Regions from separate parts of the Homo sapiens genome. Here regions 1 and 2 are each linked to region 3. Evidence: fine-mapped expression QTL. A gene starts in region 3. Each other region holds a variant in brackets. All regions are shown on one strand. Distances are from middle to middle.

Evidence for each region. PIP is the estimated chance that this variant, and not a neighbour inherited with it, causes the effect. A credible set is the group of variants that fine-mapping cannot tell apart.
Region 1: its variant is the best candidate, but not a certain one, in a credible set for the expression of KLHL12 in whole blood (TOPMed, PIP 0.74).
Region 2: its variant is the best candidate, but not a certain one, in a credible set for the expression of KLHL12 in whole blood (TOPMed, PIP 0.64).

Annotation. Positions count from the first base shown.
Region 1 is chr1:202,957,383-202,962,608 of GRCh38, reverse strand. ADIPOR1 (adiponectin receptor 1) reads left to right here and starts at 4,297. Exons shown (of 8, transcript NM_015999.6): 1 at 4,297-4,424. CYB5R1 (cytochrome b5 reductase 1) reads left to right here. Exons shown (of 9, transcript NM_016243.3): 9 at 1-736. The coding sequence ends at 82. RefSeq lists silencers at 3,719-3,768, 4,069-4,628. The variant A/G (reference allele first, on the strand shown) is at 2,151.
Region 2 is chr1:202,944,384-202,949,609 of GRCh38, reverse strand. It overlaps ADIPOR1 (adiponectin receptor 1), which reads left to right. Exons shown (of 8, transcript NM_015999.6): 3 at 1,190-1,306; 4 at 3,000-3,171; 5 at 4,441-4,627. Among named protein-coding and RNA genes, the nearest start is that of ADIPOR1, 11 kb to the left of the region's middle. RefSeq lists an enhancer at 4,855-5,149. The variant G/A (reference allele first, on the strand shown) is at 2,001.
Region 3 is chr1:202,924,436-202,929,661 of GRCh38, reverse strand. KLHL12 (kelch like family member 12) reads left to right here and starts at 2,428. Exons shown (of 12, transcript NM_021633.4): 1 at 2,428-2,573; 2 at 4,455-4,694. The coding sequence starts at 4,500. RefSeq lists enhancers at 158-657, 658-1,159, 2,236-2,285.

The sequences.
Region 1 (5,226 bases), 33 kb before region 3:
GCCACCCCCAATGGTGCAGCTGGCCTGCCATCCCAACTTGGACAAACTGGGCTACTCACAAAAGATGCGATTCACCTACTGAGCATCCTCCAGCTTCCCTGGTGCTGTTCGCTGCAGTTGTTCCCCATCAGTACTCAAGCACTATAAGCCTTAGATTCCTTTCCTCAGAGTTTCAGGTTTTTTCAGTTACATCTAGAGCTGAAATCTGGATAGTACCTGCAGGAACAATATTCCTGTAGCCATGGAAGAGGGCCAAGGCTCAGTCACTCCTTGGATGGCCTCCTAAATCTCCCCGTGGCAACAGGTCCAGGAGAGGCCCATGGAGCAGTCTCTTCCATGGAGTAAGAAGGAAGGGAGCATGTACGCTTGGTCCAAGATTGGCTAGTTCCTTGATAGCATCTTACTCTCACCTTCTTTGTGTCTGTGATGAAAGGAACAGTCTGTGCAATGGGTTTTACTTAAACTTCACTGTTCAACCTATGAGCAAATCTGTATGTGTGAGTATAAGTTGAGCATAGCATACTTCCAGAGGTGGTCTTATGGAGATGGCAAGAAAGGAGGAAATGATTTCTTCAGATCTCAAAGGAGTCTGAAATATCATATTTCTGTGTGTGTCTCTCTCAGCCCCTGCCCAGGCTAGAGGGAAACAGCTACTGATAATCGAAAACTGCTGTTTGTGGCAGGAACCCCTGGCTGTGCAAATAAATGGGGCTGAGGCCCCTGTGTGATATTGAAAGGGTTGTTGTGTCTGGGGTCCTTGTTTCCAAATCCCCGAGGACCTAGGGAGGAAGGGTTTGCCACCATGCAACTCTCCCAGGTGTTCCAAAGAACCTTTGAGAAGTTGTACCATGTGCTGAAATGTGAGCTGCCAGCAGACTCAGTGATCATCTCAGCAGCTGTCTCAGCAGAGCCAGAGCTCCGCTTCTCCCTGGAGGCTCTCGAGGTGGGGGAAGGAGAACACACATTAGAGGGGACATTTTTGAGCCCAGCTGCCCCTCACAGTGTTCCCTTGATAGGCCACTCTTCCCCTTCTTCCTTCTCTTGGCCTATCCTTCACCATATTTATCCTTCAGGGAACCTGGCACACAAATCAAAGTGTTGTCTTTCTGTTTGGAAGGGAAGCCTTCTTCTTTAAAAAGTAACCTGACATCACCAGCCCTGGCCGGAATTGTTGATGCCCAGATAGAGTTGGCCTCCCCCAGGCTCATCTGTCCTGAGTACCCTTCTCCTCTGCTATGTAGCATGACCCAATCTACTCCCTTTCCCAGGGTAGGACTAGGGCAGCCTCTCCAGATTCTTCTTTGTTACTCCCATTGCAACAAAACAATGTGGTGGGCTCAGAATGAAGGTCGACATTGCTTTTCTGCTTTTCAGCAACTGTCTATTGCTGTTTCTGGGGCTTCTGAGAGAAAGATTTGTGGGACCCTCAGAATTCACTCCTCCCCAGGGCAGAACCTTCAGTAAATTCTGTTGGTGGTGTTCCATCCAACATTTCTTGATCAGCTAATATGTGTATGGCACTGGGCTCTGTAACACAGTCTCAGCCACCTCACCTCCAGGAAGGAAAATCTTGCTTAGGAACGTTGGGCTCAGATAGTGAAGCAGGCTTGTAAAGAGAATTTCCTGCGTGGAAGATCACCATTCCTTGTCTTGCATGGGTTTTTGTCTCATCCACTCAACATACAAATGTTTATTAAGGATCTGGCATGTGCCAAGCACTATGCGAGGCCCTGAGGATAAAAGTGTGACCAACACTGGTCTTAGACCCCCAAAGAACTCACAGTCTAAGACAGACAAATGACATTTTTTTTTTTTTTTTTGAGACGGAGGCTCGCTCCGTCACCCAGGCTGGAGTACAGTGGCGCAATCTCGGCTCACTGCAAGCTCCGCCTCCTGGGTTCACACCATTCTCCTGCCTCAGCCTCCCGAGTAGCTGGGACTACAGGCGCCCGCCACCACGCCCGGCTAACTTTTTGTATTTTTAGTAGAGATGGGGTTTCACCGTGTTAGCCAGGATGGTCTCGATCTCCTGACCTCGTGATCCGCCCGCCTCAGCCTCCCAAAGTGCTGGGATTACAGGCGTGAGCCACTGCGCCCGGCCAACAAGTGACAAATAATTATAACAGTGTGACTAATACCATAGCAGAGGT[A/G]CATACAAAGTGCAGCTGGGAAGAGGTTGAGAAAGATTCAGAAAGGGAGGAAGGGGGGAAAGAGAGGTAACATTTTTGACAGCCTGGGCAACATAGTGAGACCCTATCTCTACAAAAATAAAAAATTAACTGGGCATGGTGGCACGAATCTGTAGCCCAGCTACTTGGGAGGCTGAGTTGAGAGGATCCCGTGAAGCCCAGGAGTTCGAGGCTGCAGTGAGCTATGATCTTATGATCACACCACTGTACTCCAGCCTAGGTGACAGATTGAGAGCCTGTCCCTAAAAATACAAACAAAAATGGTTTTGAGTTAACAGCCATGTACCAAGTACTGTGCTAAGTACTCGATCTACATCACATAATTTAATCCTTATGATAATCATGTGAGCTGAAGATTAATAATTTACCAAAGGTCATACAGCTGGTCAGTGGCTGACAGAGCCTAAATGTGAATTTAGGATTGTCTGAGGCCAAAGTCAAACCTAGAAGTGGGCATTGTAAACTGCTGGCATCTTGCAGCAGACAATGAGAAGGGCAGTCCAACAGAAGGATCAGCATGTGCAACAGCCTGGAGGAATGAAAGAGAAGTTCACTTCAGAGAACTAGTTCACCAAGGCCCAACATGCCAGAGGGAAAATGGAGAATGATGAGGCCTTAGAAGTTAGAGCCAGCTCGCAAAGAGCCTCGAAACACTATGCTGAAGAAACCTGGACTCAATCCTGTGGACAGTGAAAAGTTTCTGAGGGTTTTATACAAATGGCAACACGGTAATAGCTAACATTTATAAAGCACTTACCATTGGCTAGGCCTCATAATAAGAGCCTGCATGAATTATCTCACTCAATCCTGACAAAGACCCAATGAAATAGTATTATTTTATTCCCACTTTTCAGATGAGGTAATTATCATTTGGAGGGGTTCAGTAATGTGCTCAAGATCATAGACTGGCCTGGGACAGAAGCTTGGCTCTATGTGACTCCAGAGCCCATGCTTTTAACTAGGACCAAGAGAATTAACCCCACGTCCCTGAAGCACCTATATCAGATTACAATGAGTCACTTTCTCTGCCTCTAGAATGGCACTAGTTGCACAGTGAGCTATGATATGATTGCACCACTGCATTCCAGCCTAGGTGACAGTAAGAACCTGTCCCTAAAAAAGAAAAATTAAAAATTTTTTTGAGTTAACAGCCATATTGAGGTACTGTGCCAAGTACTCTATCTACATCAGATAGTTTAATCCTTATGATAATCCTGTGAGTTAAAGGTTTGCTCACAAGAGGAAGATTGACATTGCTTTTCTGCTTTTCAGCAACTGTGTATTGCTGTATCTGGGGCTCCAGAGCATGGGGCTCTAGAGTCACATAGAGCCAAGCTTCTGTCCCTGGCCAGTCTGTGACCTTGAGCATATTAGTGAACCCCTCCAAATGATAGTTACCTCATCTGAAAAGTGGGAATAAAATAATACTATTTCATTCTTGGGAGAAATGAGAAAATGGCCAGACCCTGAAATCCCCTTCTGTGTTGTGTGGTTCAGACAAGGGCTGCACTACCCTATGTTGTCTCGCGATCTGCACTCTAGGTGCCTGTGGGAGCAGGAACTGGGGCACGGGTTCACCAGCAAGAGTAGTTAGAAACAATTCTGCTCTCTGATAAGAAAATAACAGGAGGCAGACTGAGGTCTAGCCCAGGGCCTGGCACATGGTAGGGGCTCAATAAATAGTTTGTGGAAGGGAAGGAAGGACCATGCGGTTGAAGAAGAGATTAAGAAGTGTTTCAGAGGTGAAACGACTAGCCTTGGGGACAGAGGAGATGAGATAAGGTGTATGGTAGAAAATTCAGCATTCCCTCCCGACGTTCTGTCTCATTCTCTGAAATTTCTTCTCCATCACGCACTTCAGGCTGCGATAACGAGGTGGAGTGTAGAATCCGACGAACGTCCTCTACCCCGGGGCGGGTGGAGGTTACCTGGCTGCGGCGGGGAGGTGGGCAGGCGGCAGGGAAGGCGGGGCAGCAGGGCGGGGCCCGGGGCGGGAGGTGTGGCCGGCGGGCGCGGGCCTGTGATTGGGACTCCGCGAGAGGGCCTAGGATTGGAGGGCCCAGGCAGAGCCCGCGAGGAGGTGACGCGGCTGCGGAGGTGACGCGGGAGGTCGCGCGCCCCTTCCGGCGCGGGGAGGGCGCTGAAGATCGGGGCCGCTCGGCCGCAGGCCGCCTCCAGCGCCGCGGGATGTAGCGCGGGGGACCGCGGCCCCCAGCAGAGCCCGCCTGCCCGGCTGTAAGTCTCCCAGGGGCTGCGCGGTGGGCAGGGACTCGGCGGGAGCGCGGGGACCCCGGGGGCCCCGACCCAGGCCTGCGGAGGAGACAGCTGTTGGGGGAACCCGCTCCGACTTGCCAGGGGGCTCGGGCCCCAGCCAAGGAGCCGCCTGGCCTCCAGGCATCCAGCCGGTCAGGTTGTAAACATTTCCGGCCCCTCCCACTGCGCGCCGCCTCCGAGGCGGCCTAGGTGCGGTGGGCGCTCGTCCCCGGCTGTCCCCCGACTCCCGGCAGTCCTGTGAGTGCTGCGCCTTTAGCCCCACGGGGTGGAGATGCATGGGTTCCCCAGATCGGGACCAGAGAGCCAGAGTTAAGCCTGGCCCCGAGGCCGCCGCGCGTGGGGAGGGAGGGCTGCGGGCCTAGGTCGCGAACCGCCTCTCAGCGGGGAACAGCCGCATTGGGTTGCCAGGAAGCCCTAAGGTTCCTCCACCAACAATCTTTGGCAGGTCAAGTCCTGACAGTGCCCTCACTTTGATGGGGTGGGAAGGGAGGTTGGTGATCGCTCTGCAGGGTTAAGGTAATCCTGAAGGCTGAAATGCGGGGCAGAATCGAAGGTACTTTGGGGGAAAATGAAATTTCATTACCTTAGGTATCTAGGATTGATGTATTCTATCTTCTGTTTGAGAATTTTGGTCTTCAAGCCTTCGATTTTTAAGAAAATAGATAAGTGTTTTTTTTCCCTCAGTTTCTGGTGCTCTTTGGGAGAATGGGAAACTGACAAGGCCAATTTCAGTTTACACCGTTTCAGATGTCAAAGGAGCGCT
Region 2 (5,226 bases), 20 kb before region 3:
CTCCTGGGTGTGTTTTTTTTTTTTTTTTTTGGAGACAGAGTCTCGCTGTCGCCCTGGCTGGAGTGCAGTGGCACGTTCTCGGCTCACTGCAGGCTCCGCCCTCCAGGGTTCATGCCATTCTCCTGCCTCAGCCTCCCGAGTAGCTGGGACTACAGGTGCCCGCCACCTCGCCCGGCTAATTTTTTGTATTTTTAGTAGAGACAGGGTTTCACCGTGTTAGCCAGGATGGTCTCGATCTCCTGACCTCGTGATCCGCCCGCCTCGGCCTCCCAAAGTGCTGGGATTACAGGCGTGAGCCACCGCGCCCGGCCCTCTGGGTGCGCTTTTTTAGGCCCTGGAGTCAGTACCGCTGTTTTCCATGGAACCAGTTCTGAGGCCCTGGTACTCCTGGGAGCTGCTGTAGATACAAAGTTTCAATCATGACAGCATCCCTAGAGTCAGTGAACAGGGAACTCTGAACAGAATTATTGTTATGGAACTCTCTGAGACTCTGTGTCTTTTTCGTTGTTTTGAAAACGTAGGCTGGGCATGGTGGCTCAGCCTGTAATCCCAGCACTTTGGGAGGCCGAGGCAGGAGGATCACGTGAGGTCAGGAGATTGAGAACAGCCTGGCCAACATGGTGAAACCCCATCTCTACTAAAAATACAAAAATTAGTCAGGCATGGTGGTGGGCGCCTGTAATCCCAGCTACTTGGAGGCCGAGGCATGAGAATTGCTTGAACCCGGGAGGCGGAGGTTGCAGTGAACAGAGATCGCACCACTGTACTCCAGCCTGGGTGACAGAGGGATATTCCATTTCAAAAAAAAAAAAAGAAAGAAAGAAAATGTAATGGCTTAGAAAAGAGAACTCTTTGGGAAACTGAGGAAAGTTAAGAACCACTATCCTAAAGAAAAGGATGTCATTCAGTACCTAGAGCTGGTGTATTCCCCCAATGCTAGTCTCTGTGACAGTCCTTCTTTTACGCACTGCATAGAATGTTCACTCCAGCATTTACGAAGTATTAATAAATTTCTAACTAGTGTTGTAAACTCAGTGTGTATGCTTTTGGAGAAGAGACCACAAGACCCTCTGTAGGAAAGAGGCTGGGCAGAAGGCATTAGGTTTGGGTTTTTCTGGGTCTCTCTGCTCTGGAATAGTACAATTTATGAGATGACTCCCTGGATTGTTGTGGGTTTTTTCCCCCATAGGCTGAAGAAGAGCAAACATGCCCAGTGCCCCAGGAAGAAGAGGAGGAGGTGCGGGTACTGACACTTCCCCTGCAAGCCCACCACGCCATGGAGAAGATGGAAGAGTTTGTGTACAAGGTATGGCCTATGAGCTTCTGTCCTGGAAGGGGAAGGGCAGCAGGCCTGTCTGGGATGTCCCCAGCCAGCAAGCTTGCACTGGGTCGAAGAGCTTTTATTCCTGGGAAGGAGTGGATTTGTTTTTTGGTTAAGATGAGGTAAATCAATGTGAAGACTGGCTAAATTTTTACTGCCTACTCTGTGAGGCATTGTTCAAAATATATTCTTAAAACGGATTCTTTTCTATGCAAGGGGCGCCTTTGGAAGTCATCAAAATATTTCAATATGACAGTAATATGAATGCCTTTGTTAACACATTAAATATACATGAATGATGAGCACTAATGTATTTTATTAAAATTTGTAATTTCTAAGTAATGATGAATAGAAACAGTATTTTGAGATACCTGCAGAACTAATGTGTGAGAGTATCTGATTTCTATTGGTGACAAAGCCACAAGTTCTACTAATACTGTGGTTTGTTGCTTATGCTTATAATTGAGGAAAATGCTCAATTTACTTAGAGGTAAATGGAAATACAATTTTTTCCATCTATTCCCTGGATCCTGTCCATAGTGCATGGATCCTAGATTAAGAACCCCTACTCTAAAAAGATGTGGTAAGAACTTAGAATCTAATTGGGGGAGGGATGAGACATGAGATAGAATCTCCTGGAGAGGGGCAAAGGAGGGATCTGTACGTTTTTTAAAACAAC[G/A]TTTATAATTTTTTTGTTTTTATTCAGTATATCAATTTTGAAATTTCAAGTAGCCTAAAGGAGGTTGTACCATATATATATATATATTTTTTTGAGACAGAGTTTTGCTCTTGTCTCCCAGCTGCAGTGGCACGATCTCAGCTCACTGCAACCTCTGCCTGCCAGGTTCAAGCACTTCTCCTGCCTCAGCCTCCCGAGTAGCTGGGATTACAGGCATGTGCCACCACGCCTGGCTTATTTTTGTATTTTTAGTAGAGACGGGGTTTCTCCATGTTGGTCAGGCTAGTCTCGAACTCCCAACCTCAGGTGATCCGCCCGCCTCAGCCTCCCAAAGTGCTGGGATTACAGGCGTGAACCACTGCGCCCAGCCTGGTTGGACCATATTTTCTTAAAAGGTTGAGAAACACTTACCTAAAACTTCTCCAGATAAACTAACATGAAACAAAGACAAAGAGATTTTTTGTTTGTTTGTTTTTGTTTTTTTGTTTTTTTTGAATACAGAGTCTTGCTCGGTCGCCCAGGCTGGAGTGCAGTGGTGCAATCTCGGCTCACTGCAACCCCCGCCCGCCAGGTTCAAACCATTCTCCTGCCTCAGCCTCCTGAGTAGCTGGGATTACAGGTGCCCGCCACCATGCCCGGCCAATTTTTTGTGTTTTTAGTAGAGACAGGGTTTCACCATGTTAGTCAGGCAGGTCTTGAACTCCTGACCTCAGGTGATCCACCTGCCTCAGCCTCCCAAAGTGCTAAGATTACAGGCATGAGCCGCTACACTCAGCCAGGATTTTTTTTTTTTTTTTAATGGTCAAAATATGAGTCAGGACTCTGCTAGCCCCATTCATGCTATGTCTTGGATATCCCCCAGTCCAGGCTGGTTCTCCACTATTACCTAGGACCATTCAGAGCCTGACTGACATCTTCTTAGACTAGTTCTCCATCACTGCTTGTCCTTGGGGAAGGTACTATCTAGTGCCCTACCCAGAGAAAGTGTATATGTTCTAGGTCTGGGAGGGACGTTGGAGGGTCATCCCATATGATGTGCTCCCTGACTGGCTAAAGGACAACGACTATCTGCTACATGGTCATAGACCTCCCATGCCCTCCTTTCGGGCTTGCTTCAAGAGCATCTTCCGCATTCATACAGAAACTGGCAACATCTGGACCCATCTGCTTGGTGAGTGATTTGGATGGGGAAAGGTGGAATTTGTTGTCTCCCTAACTGCGAAGGGATTATAGAGCCCAACAAAGTTGTTCAGATCGATTGGCAGCTGGGATTCTACCTTTAAACTACTAATGACTTTAAGCTAATAACCTTGGTTGACCCTTGATCACTGATCTTTAAGACTGAGAGTAAAAGGCCTAGAAACCAAAGAAATTGGGACTAGATATTTTTTTGTGATCCCTGGCAGAACTGTTCTAGGTGGAGACAATTCCTTGTACTTCGTAATTTCCAACTGTAAAAGTAAAATGCCAACATTTCAAAAAATGGTCTTTTTTGTCTGGGTTTCTGTGACCAGTGCCACTTTCTTTGAAACATTGGACTGCAATTACACAGCTAAACCTCATAGCTTTCTGATTTTTTTTTTATTTCAATAGCTCTTGGGTTACAAAGGGGTGGGGGGGGGTTTGGTTACATGGATGAATTATATACTGGTGAATTCTGAGATTTTAATGCACCCATCACCTTAGTAGTGTACATTGTACTCAATATGTAGTTTTTCTGTCTCACACCCCTATCTCCCCCTCCCGCTTCTAAGTCTCCATAGTCCATTATATCATTCTATATGCCTTTGCGTACTCATAGCTTAGCTCCCACTTATAAGTGAGAACATATACAGTATTTGATTTTTCATTCCTAAGTTACTTCACTTAGAATAGTGGCCTTCAGCTTCATCCAGGTTGCTGCAAAAGACATTATTGCATTCCTTTTTATGGCTGAGTAGTATTCCATGGTGTACATACACCACATTTCCTTTATTCACTCATTGGTCAATGGACACTTAGGTTGGTTCCATATCTTTAGAGTTGTGAATTGTGCTACAATAAACATACATGTGCATGTGTCTTTTTCATATGACTGCTTTTCCTTTGGGTAGACACCTGGTAGTGGGATTGGTGGATCAAATAGTAGCTCTACTTTTAGTTCTTTAAGGAATCTCTATACCCTTTTCCATAGAGGTTATACTAGTTTATAATTTACATTCCCACAAGGAGTGTATAAGCATTCCCCTTTTACCATATCCATGCCAACATCTGTTGTTTTTTGACTTTTTAATAATGGCCTTTCTTGCAGAAGTAAGGTGGTATTTCATTGTGCTTTTAATTTGTATTTCCCTGATGATTAGTGATGTTGCCTGTAGCTCTCTGATTCAAAAACATCAACCATCAAAGTGTACACATTCCCTTTTTTCTTACAGGTTTTTTTTATTTTACCCTCCTGCAGGTTTCGTGCTGTTTCTCTTTTTGGGAATCTTGACCATGCTCAGACCAAATATGTACTTCATGGCCCCTCTACAGGAGAAGGTGGTTTTTGGGATGTTCTTTTTGGGTGCAGTGCTCTGCCTCAGCTTCTCCTGGCTCTTTCACACCGTCTATTGTCATTCAGAGAAAGTCTCTCGGACTTTTTCCAAGTGAGTTAAAAGAACACCATAGGAAAATACTGTGCACTGTTGTCACATCTTGAGATCCCAGTGCTTACTGGGTGATAGGAGCTCATATCACTCCTAAAGGTTTCTTGATATGCCAGAGGAAAGGCTCTCTGTTCTGTGGCGATAGTGGGGTGATGAAGCTTTTCTCTTAAACACTTCATGAACAGACTTACTGCATCCTCTTCAACAGATGGAGAGACCAATTGTGGAATATATTTTCTACCTGAAAAGCACTATCTTTTGTGAGGCTTAGAGTGCCAGTGCACTGGCTGCTTTCCAAGACCTTGTACAAGCGTAACTTACTATTAGCCCAAGCCAAAGTAGGGTGTGGTAAATAGTCTATGCTTCATTCTGCTGGTGCTCCTACCCAGCAGTCAAGTAAAGCTTATCTTTGCTGCCCATGCATTGCTGGAAGCTCCAGATGTCCATCATCGTGTGCTTTCTCTCTTGCCCAGCCGTGAGCCTGAGGTTCTATTTGTTTGCTTGTTTTTGTTGTTATTGTTGGTTTTGGTGGCGACAGTGGTGTATTATTTTGTTTTTTCTAACAACACCAGTAAGAAGGTACATTTTCCTCATTTAAA
Region 3 (5,226 bases):
GGCAAAATAAATTACAAAGAGCAAAAATCTCCTTCCCACCCTGTCTCACAACCAAACAGTTCCTTTCCCCAAAGAAACCAAGGTTACCACTTTGTCTTTTCAAATACATGTTACACATACACAAGCAAATATGAATATATCTTCCACCTTTTTACACCAATAATAGAGTATATAAATTGTTCACAGCTTCATGGTATTGGATTTTATGGATGTACTATACCTTATTGAATCAGTCCCCTATTAATGGACATTTAATGTTGTTGTTGATCTAATCTACAAACAATGCTGCAGTTAACAATCTTGTACATACATCGTTTTACATGTGCACGAGTATATGTGAAGGAAAATTTTATTAAAATCGACGAATATTTCCAAAATGCCCCCAATAATATACCAATCTTGCATTCTTCTCTACAATGTGTGAGTCAGGGACAGTTTTAGATCAGGAAGGTATGACATGGAAGATGGGGACACGTTGTAAATTTAGAATGCTACCCACTTGGCTATGGTTTTAGTACCCTTAAGAATCAAAGGGCTAGGCGCTGTGGCTGACGCCTGTAATCCCAGCACTTTAGGAGGCCAAGGCGGGCGGATCACGAGGTCAGGAATTCGAGACCAGCCCGGCCAAGATGGCGAAACACCGTCTCTATTAAAAACACAAAAATTAGTCGGGCGTGGTGGTGTGCACCTGTACTCCCAGCTACTCGGAGAGGCTGAGGCAGGAGAATTGCTTGAACCCGGGAGGCGGAGGTTGCAGTGAGCTGAGATCGCGCCAGTGCACTCGAGCCTCGGCGACAGAGCAAGAGTCCGTCTCAAAAAAAAAAAAAAAAAAAAAAAAGAATCAAAGGGCTCACAGAGCATAATAGTATTACCAAACACAATTTGTCTAGACATTCAGATAAGCTGAACTAATTAAGCTTTTTGCCTTTTCAGTCACTAAGTGCACCAAAATAAATTAGAATTTCCTGAATCAATTAGAATTTCCTTAGAATCAATTCAGTGGTGATGACAGGGCCCATTATGATGCAGAGTATATACTGAGGTCTGTGGATCCTAAGGCTCAGAGGATTCTCGCCGCAGCGTTGTTCGGCCCGAAAAGGCCATTGTGGACAATGGACGTGAATAAATTTGAGGCCTCTGTGGGTTTTCTCGATGTCAAAAAGTTCCTCAGTACCTGGAAGGTAAAACATACTTGCTGCAATCAGATGCTTGGCATATTAAGCGTTGGAATTCTCTCTGCCTGCCCTGCCTAGTGAGCGGTAGGGAGGAACTCAGGCTCAGCCAATCGCCGAGCTGTAGATACATTCCCAGGCTCCCTGCCGGACCCCACAACATCCAGCCTTTTTTTTGTTTTTTCTTTTTTTTCTTTTTTCTTTTTTTTTTTTTTGAGACGGAGTCTTGCTCTGTCGCCCAGGCTGGAGTACAGTGGCGCGATCTCAGCTCACTGCAACCTCCGCCTCCCGGGTTCACGCCATTCTCCTGCCTCAGCTTCCCGAGTAGCTGGGACTACTGGCGCCCGCCACTACGCCCAGCCAATTTTTTTGTATTTTTAGTGGAGACGGGGTTTCACCGTGTTAGCCAGAATCGATCTCCTGACCTCGTGATCCACCCGTCTCGGCCTCCCAAAGTGCTGGGATTACAGGCGTGAGCCACCTCGCCTGGCCTTTTTTTTTTTTTTTTAAGAGACAGAGTCTCAGTCGGTCGCCCAGCCCGGAGTGCAATGGCGCGATCTCGGCTCAGCAACCTCCGCCTCCCAGGTTCTAGCGATTCTCCTGCATTAGCCTCCTGAGTAGTTGGGATTACAGGCGCGTGCCACAACGCCCGGCTAATTTTTTTGTATTTTCAGTAGAGATAGGGTTTCACCATGTTGGCCAGGCTGGTCTCGAACTCCTGACCTCAAGTAATACACCCGCCTCGGCCTCCCAAAGTGCCGGGATTACAGGCGTGAGCCACCACGCCTGGACATTTTTTTTTTTTTTTTTTTTTTACAGGGTCTCATTCTGTGGCCCAGGCTGGAGTGCAGTGGCGATCCTGGCTCACTGCAACCTCTGCTGCCTGGCTCAAGTGATCCTCCTGTCAGCCTCTCGAGTAGCTGGGACTACAGGCGCGGTGCGGGCTAATTTTTTTTTTTTTTTTTTTTTTGTAGAAACGGGGTTTTGCCGTGATCCCCAGGCGGGTCTGGAACTCCGGAGCTCAGGTAATTCGCTCGCCTCGGCCTGCCAAAGTGCCGGGATTATAGGCGTGAGCCACCATTCCCTGCCCACCCGACCTTTTTGTAATTCGGCTTCCTAGCAGCGTACAGAAGCCCCGCGCTAGGGTACAGACAGGTCACGTGACACCACCTCCTCACGTGACGCAGACTCTGGAGCGGGGGGAGGGCGGTGCTCCAGCTGCATTGCGTCATCACGTCGCGCGGCCGCAGGGGCCAGACCCGGACGGCTCCAGAGCCTCCAGAGCCTCCGGGTCTGGGCGGCGCTTCGGCTCCTCCCGAGCCGCCTGCTAGCCCCGCGCCGCACTCCATCCCCACAGGCTGGGGACGGGCCCGGTGCGGCTGTGTGGGTTCGGGAGCGGAGGTGAGTTGCGCGGAAGTGATGGCAGTCAGCCCTTCCCTTCCTGTCCGTCAACTCCGGGTTATGGCCCTACCCCCCATCCTTGGTCTCCCTGCAAGGCGGAATGGGAGACATGCCCAACAGAGGAGGAAGGCTGGCAGTGGGGTGGGGCATCTGGCCTCGGTCACCCTCTCAACTCTCCCCCTGAACTGCCCCTCTCCGATACCTCCACCTGGCGGTGGCGGCCATATGCCTGGTGGTATTAGGAGGAAGGACTTCGTTTCCTTCTCTAGAATTTAGTCTTTCCCGAGTTTACTACCCATTCCCTGCCCCGAATCTCCCGAAGTGGAATCCCTCCATTCAGATGTTAACGAAAGTTCTAGAAAATAGGTCACTTCAGAAGGGTGAGGATGAAGGATATGCTGAGACTTGGAGTGTTGAGGCAGGAATCCCCTAGAAGGAAGACCACTCTGCACCGGGGTACTGTCATTTTGACACGGAAACGATAAAAGACCCCCCGGGCTGTCTTCATAGTAAATGGACATTTGTTCTAGACCTTTTTACACCCCTAGAGTTGCAACTAAGTTGACTTAAGTCTTTTTGAAAAACATATGCTTTGATGAATCACCCGCTTTTCTGTAAAATGGGTCTTGCAGAGTTGTTGGAGGAATTATCTATAGTGCTTATAGAGTAAAATGCCAACTACAAACAGAAGTAGATGAGAATTTAGGATCTCATTTTTCCTGTTGAAAGATTAATTGTGACTTGTGGACTTTTGGAGACCACAGTTTGATTTCCTTCCCCCCGGATCATTTCAGAAAGTTTTGGATTCCAATATCGATTCTTTAACAGTAATGGACATTCACAGATGTAGAGTAGGAATACCCTCTTGTTGAAGAGCTTCAATATCTTAAGCAAGTGTAAGTCCATCGATAACTTGCGTGGTTTCCATTATTCAGTGTAGGTAATGGGTCCTCAATTGAAGTTTCTTTTTTTTTTTTTTTTTTTGAGACAGAGTCTCGCTCTGTTGCCCAGGCTGGAGTGCAGTGGTGTGATCTCGGCTCACTGCAACCTCCACCTCCTGGGTTCAAGTGATTCTCGGGCCTCAGCCTTCTTGGTAGCTAGGATTATAGGCGCGCATCACCACGCCTGGCTATTTTTTGTATTTTTAGTAGAGACTAGGTTTCACCATGTTGGCCAGGCTGCTCTCAAACTCCTGACCTCAACTGATCACCCACCTCAGCCTCCTAAAGTGCTGGGATTACAGGAGTGAGCTGTTGGGCCCGGCCTGAAGTTTCATTTTAAGAAGAAATCCAGATATGTTTGGAAGTCATCAGACATATCATTTGGATACTTCTTTAGAAAAAAGTTTATTTTTACTGAGTGGCCTTTCTTGCTCTAAGTTGAAGTTGAATACACACTTTTTCTTACATTAAATTCTAAACATTTATTGTGCAACTTCTAGGATAGAAAGCATACATATAAAGCAGGATCCTCTTTTTATGTATGCTCTAAATACTTATCTACTTAAGGACATTAAATAGTAATAATATAACACCTTTAAGAAATTTTATATTTTCGGTTTATCATTTGAGACAAGAACCTTGTCAAGATTTACAAGACATATATTGTTTATCTCTACTTACATTTCAGCATTGATCATATTAAATGTCAAGTGGTAGGGACACTCCGTGATAGAGGAATTCAGAGGAAGAAGAGAGAGCTTTTACATGGACTAGATAGTGGCTAGTGGTTGGTGGTGATGCCAGGCATAGGAGTGCCCTCAACTTGTGTATGTTTGGGTCTGAGGAAGCCTCTTAGGTTCTTAATTTGTAAAGCTAATTAAATATGTTCAGTTGCCCTAGTTCTTTGAATATGCTCATTGTTTTTTTTTCCCTCTTGTAGTTGCAGAATCCAAGGACCCATTTTGTTCTTTCTCCGCACTGCTTTATGGGAGGCATTATGGCCCCCAAAGACATAATGACAAATACTCATGCTAAATCCATCCTCAATTCAATGAACTCCCTCAGGAAGAGCAATACCCTCTGTGATGTGACATTGAGAGTAGAGCAGAAAGACTTCCCTGCCCATCGGATTGTGCTGGCTGCCTGTAGTGATTACTTCTGTGCCATGTTCACTAGTGAGGTAAGTGGTAAATTAGCCCCACACAAATGAAACCCGTGGAACTCTAGTTGTCTAATTTCACTGAATAAAATAGTGGAAGTTTGATATAATTTTGAATTTTTACAGTGTGATGTTTTGGCAGATTCTGGATAAGATCTACCACTTAGATGACTATGCCTTAGTTTCCTCATCTTTAAGTTAGGGATAATAGTAATATGTAACACATGGTTATTAAGGTTGTTGTGAAGATTATTTTATGAAATAACATAGGAAGTGCTTAGAATAGTGTAATATGTAGTAAAACACACATGTCAGCTATTGGATTTTACTATTTCTTAAATTTGTCTTCCAATTTTTCTCCTTTTTTTGTTTTTAATTTTATTTATTTATTTGTAGAGACAGGGTCTCACTATGTTGCCCACGCTGGTCTTGAACTCCTGGGCTCAAGCAATCCTCCTGCCTTGGCCTCCCAGAGTGGCCACACCTGGCATTACAGGTGTGAGCCACGGCATCCAGCCTTTTTTCCTTCTAAAGTTTAAAAATTTTTAAGTGA